Linked DNA regions of Homo sapiens: region 2 is linked to region 1. The links come from fine-mapping of genetic effects on gene expression. Tissue or cell type: subcutaneous fat. Region 1 holds a variant in brackets; the other region holds the start of a gene. All regions are shown on one strand. Distances are from middle to middle.

Region 1 (8,104 bases):
TTTGTGGGAATGCTTCCTGAAAAAGATTGCTGCTATGCTTTATATGATGCAAGCTTTGAAACGAAGAAATCCGGAAGAGTATTGTTTGTTTGTTTGTTTTTGTGGGCACCAGAACTACCACCTCTGAAAAGTAAAATGATCTTCACAAGCTGTAAGGATGCAATCAAAAAGAAATTTCAAGCAAATGGACCAGAAGATCTCAACTGGGCTTGTATTGCTGAAAAGTTAGATGGGTACTTAATTGCAGCTTTTGAAGGATGCTCTGTGTAGGCCATCATTCAGTGCCACAAATGGAAAGCTTCCATGTTTAATGTTATCCGCTTGCTATATAAATAAAGCAAACATATGTTTTTAAAAAAGAGAAAACAAGAGTAGTGCTCAGATAGAATGTGTAGCTCATGGAATTCAGTACTGGGAGTCATGTTTAGTTCCTGGTGTGTGCATTTGCTAAACAGGATTCCACTAAACAGCCAAGGATACATACCCTCTTTTAATTAAATAATAGAAGCCACATGAGCATTGTCTTAGAGTTTGGGGAGAAAATGTGTAACCCTAGAAATTATGCCCATTCGTGTATTATCAATGTGTACAAGTCACAGAAAGACATTTTGGAAAGTATATTGCCCAGGAACTTTTTCTGAAAAGGGTGATATGGCTGAAAGGATTCAGCCAAAAGAAAACTAAATTCAAGTAAAATAAATTAAAAATAAAACGAAGAGAGCTTCTATAATAAAGAAGCATTTTCTGTGAAGAGGCATTTATGTAACTATTGATAACAATGAAACCCAGTTATAAATAGTTAAATCTAAATATTTCTGATAATATGAAAAAGAAAGAGGTTTGATGTGAAAAATTAGTAAGGAATTAAACATACATATTTTTCCAACACTTCGAGTCATATGGGGGGAGAAGTTACAGTGTCCAGAATTTTGATGATCTGAGAGGTAAAGAGTTATTTAAACAAAAATAGTTGTTAGGCTGGGCACAGTGGCTCACGCCTGTAATCCCAACACTTTGGGAGGCTGAGGTGGGTGGATCACTTGAGGTCAGGAGTTCGAGACCAGCCTGGCCAACATGGTGAAACCCCGCCTCTACTAAAAATACAAAAATTGGTTGGGCATGGTGGTGCGTGCCTGTAATCCCAGCTACTCAGGTGGCTGAGGGATGAGAATCACTTGAATGCGGGAGGGAGGTTGCGTGAGCAGAGATTGCGCCACTGCAATCCAGACTGGGTGACAGAGCAAGACTCTGTTTCAAAAGAAACAGTTGTGGAAGTGATAAATGCACAAGGTAAAGACATTTGAACCTGAGAAAAGGCGTGCAATTAAGAGTAATGAAAGGTAAACCTTCATCCTGGGCTTTCCCTTCATTGCTCTTCTGAGATGGATTCACTCTTTCCTGCCCTTGTCTTTCTTTGATTTCCTTATTTTGTTGGAACACATCCTAAATACGATGAAAGGTATGTTTATTCTACCATTTTGCTGTATTGGTGATTGAGCTAGGTCTAGAATTCTAGAACTTTAAAGGCTTGCTTTTTATTTTCCAGCCCCCAGGATTGCTGATGGCATTCTGACACCTTTTTGTGTGTGTGTGTGACAGCTTTTACTGCTGTTATCATTTTTGTGTGTGTGCCTGAAGACTTTAAGATTGCCTCTTCATTTTTGGTGTTCTGAAACTTGACCATGACGTGTCTGGTTGTAGGTCTTTTTTCCATTCAGCCTATTTAGTAATTGGGGAGGGGAGCTTTGAGTGTCTTCAGTCACCTATGTGAATTAACCCAGCCCTTTTTCTTCAAATATAAATGGGCCACCATGGACCACCAGACATTTCTGCAAAACCAACAGTAAAATTGAGAAGGACTAAGATGAACAAACAGGAAAAAAAAAAAAAACAGATAGCATTAAGGGAACTGAAAGTTGTAAAGTGCTGACTGGTCTCTCTCTCTAAATCCATGACCACTGAAACCTCAAGTAGCTCAGAGTGCTGCTCAGCAGCTGTCCTTCTTTCCCCATTCCATCTGCTCCCCTAGGCGATGCCTTTATAGCTTACCTCTTTCAGACCTCCAGTGCAGTCTCCCCATGCCACCTCAGCTGATTACCTTGCTCCTTACTTTCTTGAGAATTAGAAGTGCCAGAAGAGAATTTTCATGAGCTCCCATTGCCAGATCCACTCAGTCTCCTGACCCAGTACCCACATGCCTTGTCTTCCTTCCTATTTGTGTGCAGTAATTGTCTCTACTCTTAGCTCAGGCTGGCTCTTTCCCTGAAGCCCTAGATCCTAACCTCTCTCCGCTTCTTAAGAACATGGCTTCACCATTCTCTGCCTTCTCTCCTGAATCATCATTTCTCCCCTCTCTACTGTATTATTCCCATCTGCAAACATGCTGTTATTTTTCACATCTTAAAAAACCACAAAAAGCATTTCCACCTTCCCCTCCAGCTACTGCCTTTCGTCTCCCATTGTCTCTCTCTCTGTCTCTCTTTTTGAGACGGAGTCTCACTCTGTCACCCAGGCTGCAGTGCAGTGGCGCAAACTTGGCTCACTGCAATCTCTGCCCCCTGGGTTCAAGCGATTCTCCTGCCTCAGCCTTCCAAGTAGCTGGGACTACAGGCACACGTCACCATGCTCAGTTAATTTTTGTATTTTTAGTAGAGACAGAGTTTCACCATGTTGGCCAGACTGGTCTTGAACTCCTGACCTCAAGTGATCTGCCCACCTTGGCCTCCCAAAGTGCTGAGATTAGTCTTGAGCCACAGTGCCCACCCCCATTCTCCTTTAATCAAGATTTTGCCCCCACCACTCTACCCAAACAAATCTTGTCAAGTTCAACAATGACCTCCTTATAACTAGACCCAAAGGTCAATTTGCAGGCCCCAGATTCCACTGGATGCAGGGAATCATGCCACCTACCTTGAAGCACCATCTTTACTTGGCTTCCAGGACCCCTGCACTCTCCTGGTTTGCCTCTGATCTCACTGGCAGCTCCTTCTCACTCTCTATTGGTGGTTCTCCCTCCACTGTCCACCCTCCTAATATTGGGATCTCCAGGACTCAGTTCTTGATCTATTCTCTTCTTTATCTACACTTCATGAATTTCTTTTTAAAGTCCATGTATATATAATATCTATAATCCTAACTTCTTTCCTCTGATCTCAAGGCTCATGTATTTCACTGCCTTGTAACATCCCCTTTTGGATCATAGGCATCTTATGCTTAGAAAGTCCCAAATTGAGCTCTTGACCTACCCCTTACCTCCAAAATAGCTTCTTCCACAGTCCCCCTCATCCCTCAGTAAATGCTAATTCAGGTCTCCTAGTACTCAATCTGAGAACACAGGAATCTTCTCTTTTCCTCACTTGACACATCCCATGCATTATGTATTATATAAAACTTACCCATTATATATCCAGAATCTGACATCTCATAATCATCTCCATTTAGCTGGTCCAAGCTATCATCGTTTCACACCAGAACCTTCTGAAATAGTCTCCTAACCAGAGTAGCCAGCTTGTCACAGTTTGCCTGGTACTTTCCCAGTTTTTGCACTGAAAGTCCAGTCTCAGGAAATCCCTCAGCCCTGGGCAAACCAGGATTATTGATTATCCTACTTCCAACTGGAATCTTCTCTTCTTCCGTTGCCTCCTTACAGTCTATTTTCAATACAGCTAGGGTGATTCTTTTAAAATGCAAATTTTATTATGTCACTTCTCTGTTCAAAACCCTTCAATGGCTTCCTACCCAACTTAGAAAGAAAGCTATTGCTTTCAGTGGCCCACAAGACTATAGGATCCACAGGCTTGTAGGAAAAGATGGAGAATTCAGCTTTGAGCAGGCTGATATTGCAGTACTGTGGAATGTTCAACTGGCAATGTCCAAAATTGAATGGAGTATCAAGAATATCTTCTGTTTGGAAAACAAAAATAGATTGCTATGGAAAAACTTGCAAGAAAGAATTCTAGGAAATTAGAAATATTTGTTAAAATGAAAAAAATCAACGGTAGACCTGAAAGACAAAATTATAGATGCTCTGTCTGGTGATACTAATGATATATTCATAAGTAATATGCATATGATATAGTTATATATTATGTAAGATAAAAATATATAAAATACATATAAATAAATTTATTAAAAAATACATTTGCAACATGATGCACCAAATTCCCAAAATCTTCAGCATGCATCTTTCCAAACCAAGGACACTCTTCTACATAACCAGCATACAACT[C/T]TTCCAGTCAGGAAATAAGAAATCAGCTCTAACACTAACATCTAATCCAAAGAATATATTCATATTTTGCCAGCTGTCCTAACAGTGTCTCTTTCCTGTCTAGGCCAGGATCACACTTTGTACTTCATACACAAGTCTCTTTAGTCTCTTTCAATCTGGAATAATTCCTTGGTCTCTCCCTGTTTTTCATGATCTCATTAGTTTGAAAGAGTGCAGACCTTTCAGTCTCTAGGACGAAGCTCAGCCTGGTTCCACCAATGTTTCCTCAGGACTGGATTCACATTTGTGTTCTGGGAGTGCCGAAGCTCAGCCTGGTTCTACCCATATTTTGTCAGGACTGGGTTCACACATGTGTTCTTGGAGTGCCAAAGCTCAGCCTGGTTCCAGCAGTGTTTCCTCAGGACTGGGTTCACACATGTGTTCTGGGAGTGCTATACGGAAGGGAGGCTGTCCTCTTCTCACTGCATCACACGAGGGGGCATACAACGTGGGCTTGTCCCTACACTGGTGATGTTCATCTTTAGCACCTGGTCATTTTGTGTCAGGTTTCTCCACATTAACTCATCAATTTTCTATTTGTAATTGATGAACATTTTGTGGGAAGATATTCTCAAACTATGCCAATATCTTGTATCCCATTAAATCTCCACTAACTTGACTTAGTAGTTATTGATTACTTTTGCCTGAATTAACCACCATTATGGCGGTTGTAAATGGTGGTTTATCCATTATCATCATTCCTACGATATATATTAGCTGCTATGCTACTATAAGGAAGACATTTCCCTTTTCCTCCACTTACTTTTTTACTTTTTAAAAAAATTACTCATACTCAATCCTCTACTTATTTTTATTGACATAGACTCATGGATTCCTATTTTATTCAGCAGATTTAATCCATTACCATCAGTATTTATTTTAATATCAAATTATTCCAGATTTGGCTAGAGGATAACCATTGAAATTTGTACCTATGAGCTATAGACATGCCCCCATCATTCTTTGAGTAATTCTTTACTTTCTGGCACAAGAAAATGTTTCAGGTTCATCTTGTAATTTCCCTGCCTTGGCCTCAGAATTACTTATTTCTACAAGAAGTGCTAGAGTTGAGAATGATATTTGGAGACTATAATCTAGGTACTTGGTTGCTTATTGCTTCTGGGCCTTCCTGCCTCATATTGGCGTAGGATGGGAAAGTCAGGAGCTGGGGACACCCTCCCTCTCTCAAGAGCAAAGTAATTTCTCAACTTTCATAGACCATAAGACTTACTCATCACTGCATCTCTCTGCATCCTCCTTCTTTTAATCAGCTTCTTTGCCTGCACGTGGGTCTCTGTGCCCATCAGCCTTGAGTCTGACCTGACTGCTGACCTGCCCACCATTATTGGCTACGGAGTCTGCAGTGCCCAAACTGTGAGAGCAATAATCTGCATGTCTCTGTCCAGTCTATAGATTGGTTCATCTTGGGCTTGGGTTCTACCTCTAGTCTAATCACTTTTTGTCAGGGCAGTTAGCAATGTTACAATAGTGGCTGGGACAGCCCTGACAGAGCTGTAGAGAAGATGGTGCAGTTTCTCTAGGGAGGAATGAGTCCTGTGGAGGACCCTGACTACATCTGCCACATTCTATAGTCATACATTAGGTTCTTATAGAAAAGTTTTTAGATTTTCAGAAGTGAGGACATTTGGTAAAGGTTCTGTGTATCTGAATATTAAGGATCATTTTGGGTTCATGGATCAGTTATTGGGAAACACTGATCTAACTCCAGCACTTCAGTTTCTCGGATGAGTAAACTGAAGGCCAGAGAGAACAAGAGACTTGTCCTCATGTACATGGCCTGTCAACAGCAGATCTGGGATTAGAACCAGGGCTGGCCATCCAGTGAGGCGAGAGAAACATCTAAGAAGCAAAATGTAAGGAAGCCCTCACCGTCAGGATCATGCAAGTGCCCTAGGGGCTTCCCTTGACTCACCCTAGGCCCAGCCCAGATTAGAACTCCAGGATCCTGCTTGCCAGGAGGGAGAGATCACAACTGGCTTGCGGTGTATGGGTAAGAGGGACTGATGGGGAGTTTTCCTGTGTTGCCACCTTCAGGGAGAAGGAAGTTCCTGAGGAAGGCTGGTTAAGCTAGTGTTCCCAAACTGAAGGATCCAGTAGCTTGGGATGGCTGCTCACTGGAGAAGCTTGAATTATCCTGCATGCACAGAGCACTGAGGCCCCTTCAGTCTGGGTGGAGAGTTCCTGGCCTGGGTTATCTTTAGCTGGTTGCTGAGAGTTGCAGCATTTCTCAGCCCTGGTGATGGACACTTCTGTTTTCCCCCGTCTCATAAAAATAGACCTTCCCTCCAACCAGACCTGCCTTGTTAGATCTGTTCTTACATAGACAGGACGTGTGGGGTTTGTGCTTTTTTAGCCTCCAGTCTGGTGTCTGCTTCCTTCATGTGGAACTGCTTACTAAGAATTTTACCACAGGAGGATTTTAAGAAAGTAAATGTTGGCTTTGTTGTTGGTTGAGGTTAAAAACAAAACAAAACAAAACAAAAACAACAACAACAACAACAAAACCATCAAGATAGTCAAAAGAAATAAAGGAGAGAAGAACAAAAGAGAAACAGCTGAACCATTTTGTGACCCTTTTTCTGCTACTGCCCTGGTCAAAGGCACAATTTGTTCTCACCTGGATTCCTGCTGCATCTCACCCTGATTTGGTGTGTGCTCAACAAGGCAGCTGTTAGCTAACATACAGATTAGGCAAGAAAATGAAAATGAAATAAAAGGCATTCAGATTGGAAAGGAAGAAGTAAAACTACCTCTATTCACAGATTATATGATGATGTGTATCCACTAAATCCACTGAGAAACTGTCAGAATTAATTAATGAGTTTAGCAAGGTTATAGGATATGCAGACAGTATGTAACAATCAATTTCTATAACTTTGCAATGAACAATCCAGAAATGAAATTAAGGAAACAATATTTATAGTAGCATCAACTAGAATAAAACACTTAGGAATAAGGTTAACAAAAGAAGTGCAAAACTTATACTCTAAAAACTACAAAACAGTATTGAAAGAAATTAAAGAAAACTAAATAAATGGGAAGACATCCCATGTTCATAATCAGAAGAAAATAAATATTGTCTCAAATACTTAATAAATATTAAGCATTAAAACAGCAATATTCCCCAAACTGATCTATAGATTCAATACAGTTCCTATCAGTATCCCAGATGACTTTTTAATAGAAATTGACAAGCTGATCCTGAAAATTATATGGAAACTCAAGGAACCCAGAAGAGCCAAAAACAATCATAAAAAAGAAGAAAAAATTAGGACTAATTCTTCCTAATTGCAAAACAATAATCAAGACAACATAGTACTTACTTAAGGATAGACACATAGATTAATAAAACAGAATTCAGAGTTCAGAAATAACCCCATTTATCTATGGTTAGGTGAACTTTGACAAGGATGTCAAGACTATTCAATGGGGAAAAATGAGTCTTTTCAACAAATGGTGTTGGGATAACTGTACAGCCCCATACAAAAGGATGAAATTGGACCCTTACATTGTGTATAAAGATTAAACCAAAGTGCATCAAAAACCAAAATGTAAGAGCCAGAATTATAAACTCTTAAAATATTGGTATAAGTTCTCATGACCTTGAATTTGGCAATGGATTCTTAGATATGACACCAAAAGCACAAACAACAAAAGAAAAAAAATTGGAGTTCATAAAAATTAAAAACTTTTGTCTTTCAAAGGACACTACCAAGAAAGCAAAAAGACAACTGATAGAATGGGAGAAAATATTTGTAAATCTAGAAGATATAAAGACCATGTACAACTCAATATTGAAAGAACACACAACCCAAT
Region 2 (8,104 bases), 110 kb before region 1:
TGCTGGGCACCACCTCCACCTCGCGCACCCTCATGGTCTTCATATTGAACACCTCCAGCTTCACGGGCTTCTCCACATTGGCTTTCAGTAGTGCCTTCAGGGTGTCATTCTCCTTGTTCTGTGGGGGCAATGGGGCTGACTCCAAGGCCACCTCATGCCCAGGCTAGGACCCTCAGACAAGTCTGGGCCTGAGATGGGGCAAGGGCCTTAGTGGGCAGCAGCCCTCAGCAGGGTCACTGTGGGGATGGGCCAAGGTAGTGGATGGGCCAGGTTCACAGACCAGGGTTGAGCCTGCAGCCACTGGGACCCCCACCTTCCCCAAGCACTGCCAAACCTTCCTCAGCCTGCCAGAAAAAACAAAGCAAGCAAAAAGCCTCCCAGATCCACAGCATTCCAGTGCTGCCCCACTCTGAGCTGCCCCTTGGCCAGGGCCCTCATATCCCTCATGCCCCAGGAGGCAGGCCCCTTGGGCCTTGTTGCCACCTCCAAGAGGCCATATGTCCTCTGTCCACCCCACAGAGCTCAGAAGCTGAGCACTGGGCAGGGCCCCAGTCAGGCTCTGAGTACAGCCCTGGAAGAAGGGGAGACAGGGCTGGGACTCCCTTTAGAAAAAAAGGGAGGGAAGGGTAGACTGGGGCCCCCTGTGGGACAGATGAAGACACACAAACACACATAAGCAAGCAAAGCAGAGGCAGGTTGGGGAACTCACCAGCCTCGAGTGCCCAATGGTGATGATGAAGTCAAAGTAGGGCTCCAGGCCCGCCTGCTGGGCTGGGGAGTTCTCCTGCACCTATCCCACAGCAAAGACCACAGTCACTGCGCCAACCCTGGGACTCTCCAAGTAGCCCTCTCCCCCATTTCAGGAACCATCAGCACTCCCAGTGTGCCAGCCAGAACACATGTCTGGCATGAACTGTTCCGGACATTCTCAGGGTTCACTCCATGGCCTCTTGCTACCTTCCTGGGCACAAATTTTCCTCTTAGGAAAATGGCTCCTTCCTGATTATGATCCACAGATGCTTTCAGAAATGGCTCACAGCCCAGGACATCCTTAGGGGCTCCCAGGAGGCAATATGGAGACAGGCTGGCCCAGGCCTGTGGGAATGCTGCTCTAGAGGGCTAGGCTAGGGTTGGCCGGAAAGCCAAAAGGGTTTACCAGAAAGGTTTAGACTGGACCAGAAGGGAGGGCCCTGACGTGCAGTGGAAGTGGGCAGGCCTCGGGAGGGATACACCCAGGGCTGTACCCAGAAAGAGGGAGTGGGAAAAGCAGCTTGCAGCCAGGTCCCAGCTTGCACCCCAGCCTCTGGGGTGGGAGACCCAGGCTCAGTCCAGCAGGTAATGAAAGCCACTGGCAGAGAAGCAGACCCCAGGGGTAGAACTAGGCCTGAGCCAGGGAGCCCAGTGAGTGGGCAGTGCCAATCCCCACAGCCTGGCTCTGGACTGAGGAGCCCCCCAGTGGCTCAGCTGCCCTACCAGCCTCATAGTGTAGCCTCCATGCCTGTGCAGGACACCTCCTCCAGGAAGCATTCCCATTTCCAGGGTGCTCCCTGCCCCTCCCTGAACTCCCCACCTCACTGCTGTCTCCAAAAGCACAACAACCAGGCTTTGCAGGCTGTGGCAGAAATCCATCCCAAAAGCCCCATATACAGAGCCTGGCTTAAACAATGCAGGCTTTGTCCCAAGGCCCTAGACCCGAAGATGGGCCCACACCCTCAGGTCTTTGGCTGCGGGCATTTGATAACCTGTTGGCGTAGACACCAGCCAGACCCAGCCCAGAGGGCACAGGACCTAGGCTCTTGCTGCCTCCTCATGGGAAAGGCCCTGTGGCTCCTGCTACATACCAGCCCCTCCAGGTTTGGATTCCCCAACCTGAAGGAGAGCTCATGAAGACTAGGCTGAGAACAAACCGCTGAGATCAAGGCCAGTTTGCCCCTGGAATTAGGATTCCCTTCTGGCAGCATCACCAACTGAGCCCCTCCTTATCACCTCCAGAAGCTGCCATGGCTTCCAAAGGGAGTGAGTGCGGCCCAGAAATCAGATCTGGGCCTAGTTGGCCTGGCCCAGTAGGCAAGCTGCTCCCAGGCCCCGCTGCAGGGGAGCTCTGGGCCCTGCCCTCTAACCCTTCAGGTGAGGGGATCTTTCGAAAACCACAGGACAGGACAGTTATTCAGGAATAGCTTGGGGACAATGCCCCTCCCTAATCAGGGCCACCTCCAAATCACTCCACGTCAGGTGCCTGCCTACTTCCCTCCCCACTCCCCAGTATTGCATGTCAGCTGCTCTCCATCATGAATGAGGTCCAGAGGGTCAGGCCCCAGGCCTGGCCTCCTTGACCCACCCAATACCTCCACCACCCTCTCCTGTGGCTTTGTCCTCTGCTTGGCTACACTCCACTTCTCTCACCTGGGGCCTCATCACTACTCACTATGGCTCCGCAGCTGAAATAATCTATGCTGCTGCCCACTGTACGGCTCCCCCTGCAGAAACCACTGCCTGCCATCCAGCTCCCTCAGGGGCTCCCATCACAGCCTGCCCCAAGGCCCTATAGTGCTGCTTTTCCTCATGCTCCCACCCTATTTTTCCCAATCAGGGAACCTAATGGAACTCACAGTGATCACAACTTACACTTACTAAGGGCTGGTTGGCTGAGTGCCAGGGCATGGCACCACCTCACCTGCTTTATGTGTCATTTAACCTTTTTAATAACCTCAAATGACAAATGAGACCAAGTACTCAATAATTCAGTAATTTGACCCCAGGAAATCCAACCCAGAGCCCTCCCCCTAACCACTGCCCTCTCCTAACAGCTGTTTCCTGGTGAATCTGCCACTACTCTAAGCTCGCTGAGGGCAGCGACTTCTCCAAAGTATTGGGCACGCAGCGAGGTGCCAATATTTCTAGAATGCAGCACAGCTGTTCTTCAGTGTTGTTAAAGGTAAGTAGGTCATGTCACTCCTCCATTTAAAACCTCCTGATGGTTTTACATCTCAGAATAAAATCTTAAATCTTCAGGACAACAGGCAAGGTCCTACACGGTCTGCTCTGGTCTCCTCCTCACACTGGCCACACCATCCAAGCACACCAGCCTCACCTGGCATTTCCTCAAACACACAAGCACAACCTACCTCGGGGCCTCTGCACAAGCTGGTCCTTCTGCCTGGAATACTACTATTCCCCTAAATATCTGTATTGTCCACTCTTTACTTCCTTCAGAAGCATCTGTTCGAATGTGACTTGAGAAGAGGCCCTTCCTGACCACTCTATCAAAAATAGCACCCACTCACCATTCTGTATCCCCTTAACCTGCTTTATTTTTATCACTGGTAATTACCACCTACCATGTATTTTTTCATTTCCCTTCTTTCCCTACCATCATCCAAATGTCAGCTCCAGAACAGGGACCATGTTTGTTCTGTTCACTGCTTTATCTCTAGAGCCTTAGAATTCTGCCTGCCAGAGTAGGAGCTCAAAACTTTGTTTTTGTGACTGACAACCTCTGATCCCTGGTCCCTCTCCAATTTGTCCCTCTCCATCAGGCAGGCCCCTCCCGTCTTCGAAGCTCCCATCATCGCCCCACCCCTCCTCTTGCCAATATCCTGAGTTCCTTTGCCTTTAATCAAACCTGTTGGAAGACGCTCCTGGCTGGATGCATTCCACTGTCCACGCTTGCTGTTTGGTGTCTCACCATAAGAAAGCCCATTCCCAAGCACAAATCCTGTCAACTCTGGGTTCTCCAAGCCAGCCTGGTTTTCACGTTAAGAAACTTTTAGCCCTCTCATGTGGTTAGCTGGCAACAGACCCTACCTTCAAAACACACAAACCGACAAGCTTGCCTGTCTCCACTCATCTCTGCATCCAGCTGCCTTTCACTAGGGAAAGGGGGGGTGCAGGGACGCCTCTTCCCCGCAGCGCTCCGGGGTCAGAGACCCCCAGCCCCTCTCACCTACATTATAGCCCTTCCCTCACCGCAGGCACAAATCTCCATCCGGCTGCGGGACCCTCTCCTCACCCTCACAGCACACTCCGTTCTAGGAACCCCACTCCGTCTCCACTCTCCGGAAGCCTGCTCGCCCAGACCTCCATGTAGCGGCATCTAAAGGCTGGGACCCTCCCCAGCTGCAAACGCTCTCCTCGAGGATTCTGCAGCACTCTCCCGGCCCTCCCGCTCCCCACTATCCCGTGGCTGGTTTGCACCGGTCCTCTACCCTCGGAAGCCCTTACGACCCTACGACTGGCAGGACGCGCGCCGACGGGCTCCCCCGCAGCTGCGTCCACTCGGTTAACCCCGGCCCCCGGGACTGTCCTCGGCGTGGCTGACTCTCTTCCCAGGCCCAGCACGGAGAGCGGCCCGCGGCAGGCGAGCGTAAATGTGTGCTAAGTGCACGAGTGCGTCCCGACTGGTAGTGGTGCATTCTTCACCCGGGAGGAGCGCCATTCCCGGCGGCCGGACCAGGAAAACGCTCCGCTTCCGGCACTGCTGGCACTTGGGGCGGGCGCTGGGCCCGACCGCGGCCGCGGACTAGCCAGGGTCCGGGAGTCCCGCGAGGCCGCCTCTCCCAGGAGGCTCCCACCGGGCAGGGGGCACCTCCCGCCACCCAGGCGGAAACACTCGGGCCGGGACCCCGCCGCAGTCGCCAGCCAGCCGGCGACCGGACGCCCGGGCGCGGGGTTGCGGGCGCCTCGCCAAGGTCACCGGCGCCGCGGCGGCAACTCACCCCGTGGAGGTGGAAGCCCTCGGCGCCGCCTGCGGGCTGCTCAGCGCTGACGCCCAGGCCCATGGCAGCGGCTCCGCTCGGCACCCAGGTCCAGTCCCGCTGCGCCTACCCGGACCGACCCGACGCCAGTAGCACCGACTCGCTCTCTCGGCGCTCGATTCCTGCGCCTTGTGACGTGAGGCGTTTTGTTCCTCCCACTCCAGACACTGGACGCTCCTAGCAACCGGCTAGCAGCTCGGTTTCCAAGGACTGTAACGCCTTCAACCGCCCGCCGCGATAGAGTGCCCACGACCCTGCCTCGGGAATCCCGCTCTGCACCGCCCCACCAGACCCGGACTCGGAGCCGCGAGCGGCCCGAGATGAGCAGCAATGACTCCTCCCTTATGGTGCGTGGCCCGGGCGCTGTCCGAGGGCTCCCTCGTGACTCCCCGCCCCTGACCCAGAGACCGTCTGCCCTGCTACTCTCCTGCCACCCTTCGCTGTCCTCAGTTATATCAGGCGGTCCTGCCTTTTCTTGCCCCACTCCCCCTGGCAAGGGCGTCTTCTCCGGTGGCTTCTGCGCACCCTGAGCCCCAAATTAGCATCCCCGTTTCTTGAGCTACCCCAAACCAGCTCATCCAATCACTATCATTATCCCTTCTTGTCATCATCCCTTCTTCCACCCAGCTCACTCTCGCCTGCGCCTCCCACCCCAGTTGATGGCTTCACCATTTAATCTCCTAGCCTTAACTCATACCTCTTCCCTATACTCATCTTCTAATCCTGTCTACAAGAAATGCCAGCTCCTTGATGTCTCCTGGGTTTTCTTTTTATCTTTTTATCTTCTAGCCCAGAACCAGCACCATCTCTCCCCCCTGAGAGCCTGCAACAGCCTCCCTCCCATCTGGTTTCTCTGCTGTGGCTCTTTTCAGCATCAGTAGTCCCTGCTGCCACCACGGCACACACCCCCCACATGCAAAAGCAGCCAGAGTGGTTGTTGCAAAAATGTACATCTGAAAACATCCCTCGCCTTAAAACCATTCTGCTTTCTGTTACCCTTAGGATGGTGTCTGGGCTCTTTCATATGGCCCATGAGGATGTTTACAGTCCAACCACATCTGCTCCCAACCTAGCACCCACAAACCTTAGAGGAAGTGAAACTTAACTTTAAAATCTCAGCCCCTTTGTCAAGCTGTAGTTTCCATGGGCTTAAGCTTCCTTAGCTGTGAAAGATACTGAGAGGACCATGCACAGGATAGTGGATATGAAGCCCACAATAACTTGTAACTACAATTCGTATAATTTTTCTTATTATTTGTCCTCATTTTTCCCCCCTTATTCCCTTCCTAAGACAAAGCCTTGGTTGAATTCCCCATCATAGTTGAACCAGAATCTGTTGGTAATCCCCCAAACAAACACCTCCAAACTCTTTCCTGGGAAAACTGCATGGAGCTGCTCCCAGGGCTGTTAGAGGACAGGATGAGGCCTGAATGTTTCCTCTTTCTCTTCCCTTTGCAGAACTGAGGAGGAGCAGGGGATAGGGAAGGGAGCAGGTCTCATCCCATCTGGGACAGAACAGAGACAGAGAAGGGACTGGGCTATTGCAGTTATGTCTTCCTTCATACAGGCTGGGATCATTTACTATAGCCAGGAAAAGTACTTCCACCATGTGCAGCAGGCTGCAGCTGTGGGCCTGGAAAAATTCAGCAATGACCCTGTGTTGAAGTTCTTTAAAGCCTATGGAGTCCTCAAAGAAGGTAAGGACTTGGCAGTGTTGGTCTTGTGACCCCAGGCACTAGCTGGGCCCTAACACTCTGGCTCCACCTGGATGCCTTCTTGTATCCTAGTTATGGTCCCATAAAAACAGTTTCACACTCAGCGGCTGGATTCCCACGGGAATCCACAGAGGCCTACGTAATCCATATCTAGTTGACTTTTGAGACCTCAGAGCGCTGACTATCCCTGCTCTGCACCTCGGGTTCCCTCTCTGTAAAATGAGTGGTTGGAGAGATAGCTGCATGATTCTTGAAGTAATTCCAGGCCTGGAAGCTGAGAACTGGTAATGCAGGCAAAGGAGGGGGAAGAGGTAGGTGTGAGGACAGGTGGGTATGGTACAGGTACAGGGAGAGGAGTGAGACCCATGCAGGTGCAGATGGGCTGACATTCAGAAGGTGGTCCTAGGCTGAGGACTGGCAGAATAGCCCATGGCCAAATGTCTGAGGACATGGAGGGATAAATGTAATCAGTGGCTCTTGAGCAGTAGCTGAGAATGCCCTGCCTGAGGTCCTTCTTCAGAACTGACGCAGCTAATAATTGCAGCCTCACACATATCCCCACAAGTACTCACAGGGTGAACCTTTCAAGTCCAAGATTTCCAGCCCCTAACAGCCTGGACCATGTTACCAGCAACTCTTTCAAAGAGCCCCAATCTTCAGGGAACTTGGGTCACTGGGGACCTTTCAGACCAGTTAGTCCAGCAGGTAGTAGTGCTGAGCTGTTGGGTCAGCTACAGAGTCTCATGTCCTCTAGTCCTGGAGCTTGAGAGTATAACTATGTGGACTGTCTTTGCAGAGCACATCCAGGATGCCATCAGTGACCTGGAAAGCATCAGGCATCACCCAGACGTGTCCCTGTGCTCCACCATGGCCCTCATTTATGCTCACAAAAGATGTGAAATCATTGGTGAGTGCCACCATGCTCAACCAGGCCTGACCCACCAGGGGAAGGAAAGCCCTGCCCCAGAGATAACACAGCCCCTCAAGGGCTGCCAAAGGAGGTATGTGCCCTGGTGGCTGTGCAGATGCTGTTAACCAGTGAGAAGTGGCTGCTGCTCCTCTCCCCCTGGAGGCCTGGGAGAAGACTCCATGCCTGGGCCCAACTGAGTGGAAGCAGGCAGAGCCCATGACAGTGGGAGGGGCCCATGCTCCAGATCCCAAGAGTTGGGGAAACACCCTTCTTCTTTGCCAAGATCTTGTCAGAAAAACCAAGCCAATATATATAATTCTACCCCTAATCTCCACATTTCTAGAGTCAGGGAGAGGGTCCAAGAGAGACTACAGACTACTATTTCCCTACTCACAATAAGTTGTGGGCCTGAGGCTAAGGATTTTGGTTTGGCCTGCCTGCTCAGCACACTGCTGGGCACAGAGAAGAGAAGGTAATCTCAGACAGCACACGTGAGTCCACACCAGGGCAGCCCCTGCAGCATCTCAAGGGCAGGTACTGCTGGTTTCCAGGCCTTGGGCTGCATGCGGTGTGCTGCATATGTTGAAGGAGATCCACAGTGTCTGGGGGAGACCCCGAGGTAGTTCCCTGGGCCCTCGGTGGCCCATGCAGAACCAGGCAGACTTCCACATCCTAACTCTCCCTCTTCCTTCGCTCTTGGATTTACAGACCGAGAAGCAATTCAG

The links. PIP is the estimated chance that this variant, and not a neighbour inherited with it, causes the effect.
Region 2: TTC21A starts here. The variant in region 1 is fine-mapped to the expression of TTC21A in subcutaneous fat (GTEx, PIP 0.97).

Annotation. Positions count from the first base shown.
Region 1 is chr3:39,214,403-39,222,506 of GRCh38, forward strand. It overlaps DSTNP4 (DSTN pseudogene 4), which reads left to right. Exons shown (of 2, transcript XM_047449432.1): 2 at 1-270. The coding sequence ends at 270. Among named protein-coding and RNA genes, the nearest start is that of DSTNP4, 5.7 kb to the left of the region's middle. RefSeq lists a silencer at 6,573-6,672. The variant C/T (reference allele first, on the strand shown) is at 4,229.
Region 2 is chr3:39,102,764-39,110,867 of GRCh38, forward strand. TTC21A (tetratricopeptide repeat domain 21A) reads left to right here and starts at 4,917. Exons shown (of 29, transcript NM_001366900.1): 1 at 4,917-5,101; 2 at 6,322-6,451; 3 at 7,266-7,376; 4 at 8,088-8,104. The coding sequence starts at 5,075. GORASP1 (golgi reassembly stacking protein 1) reads right to left here and starts at 4,864. Exons shown (of 9, transcript NM_031899.4): 1 at 4,716-4,864; 2 at 710-790; 3 at 1-118. The coding sequence starts at 4,778. RefSeq lists enhancers at 219-718, 397-446 and a silencer at 4,494-4,813.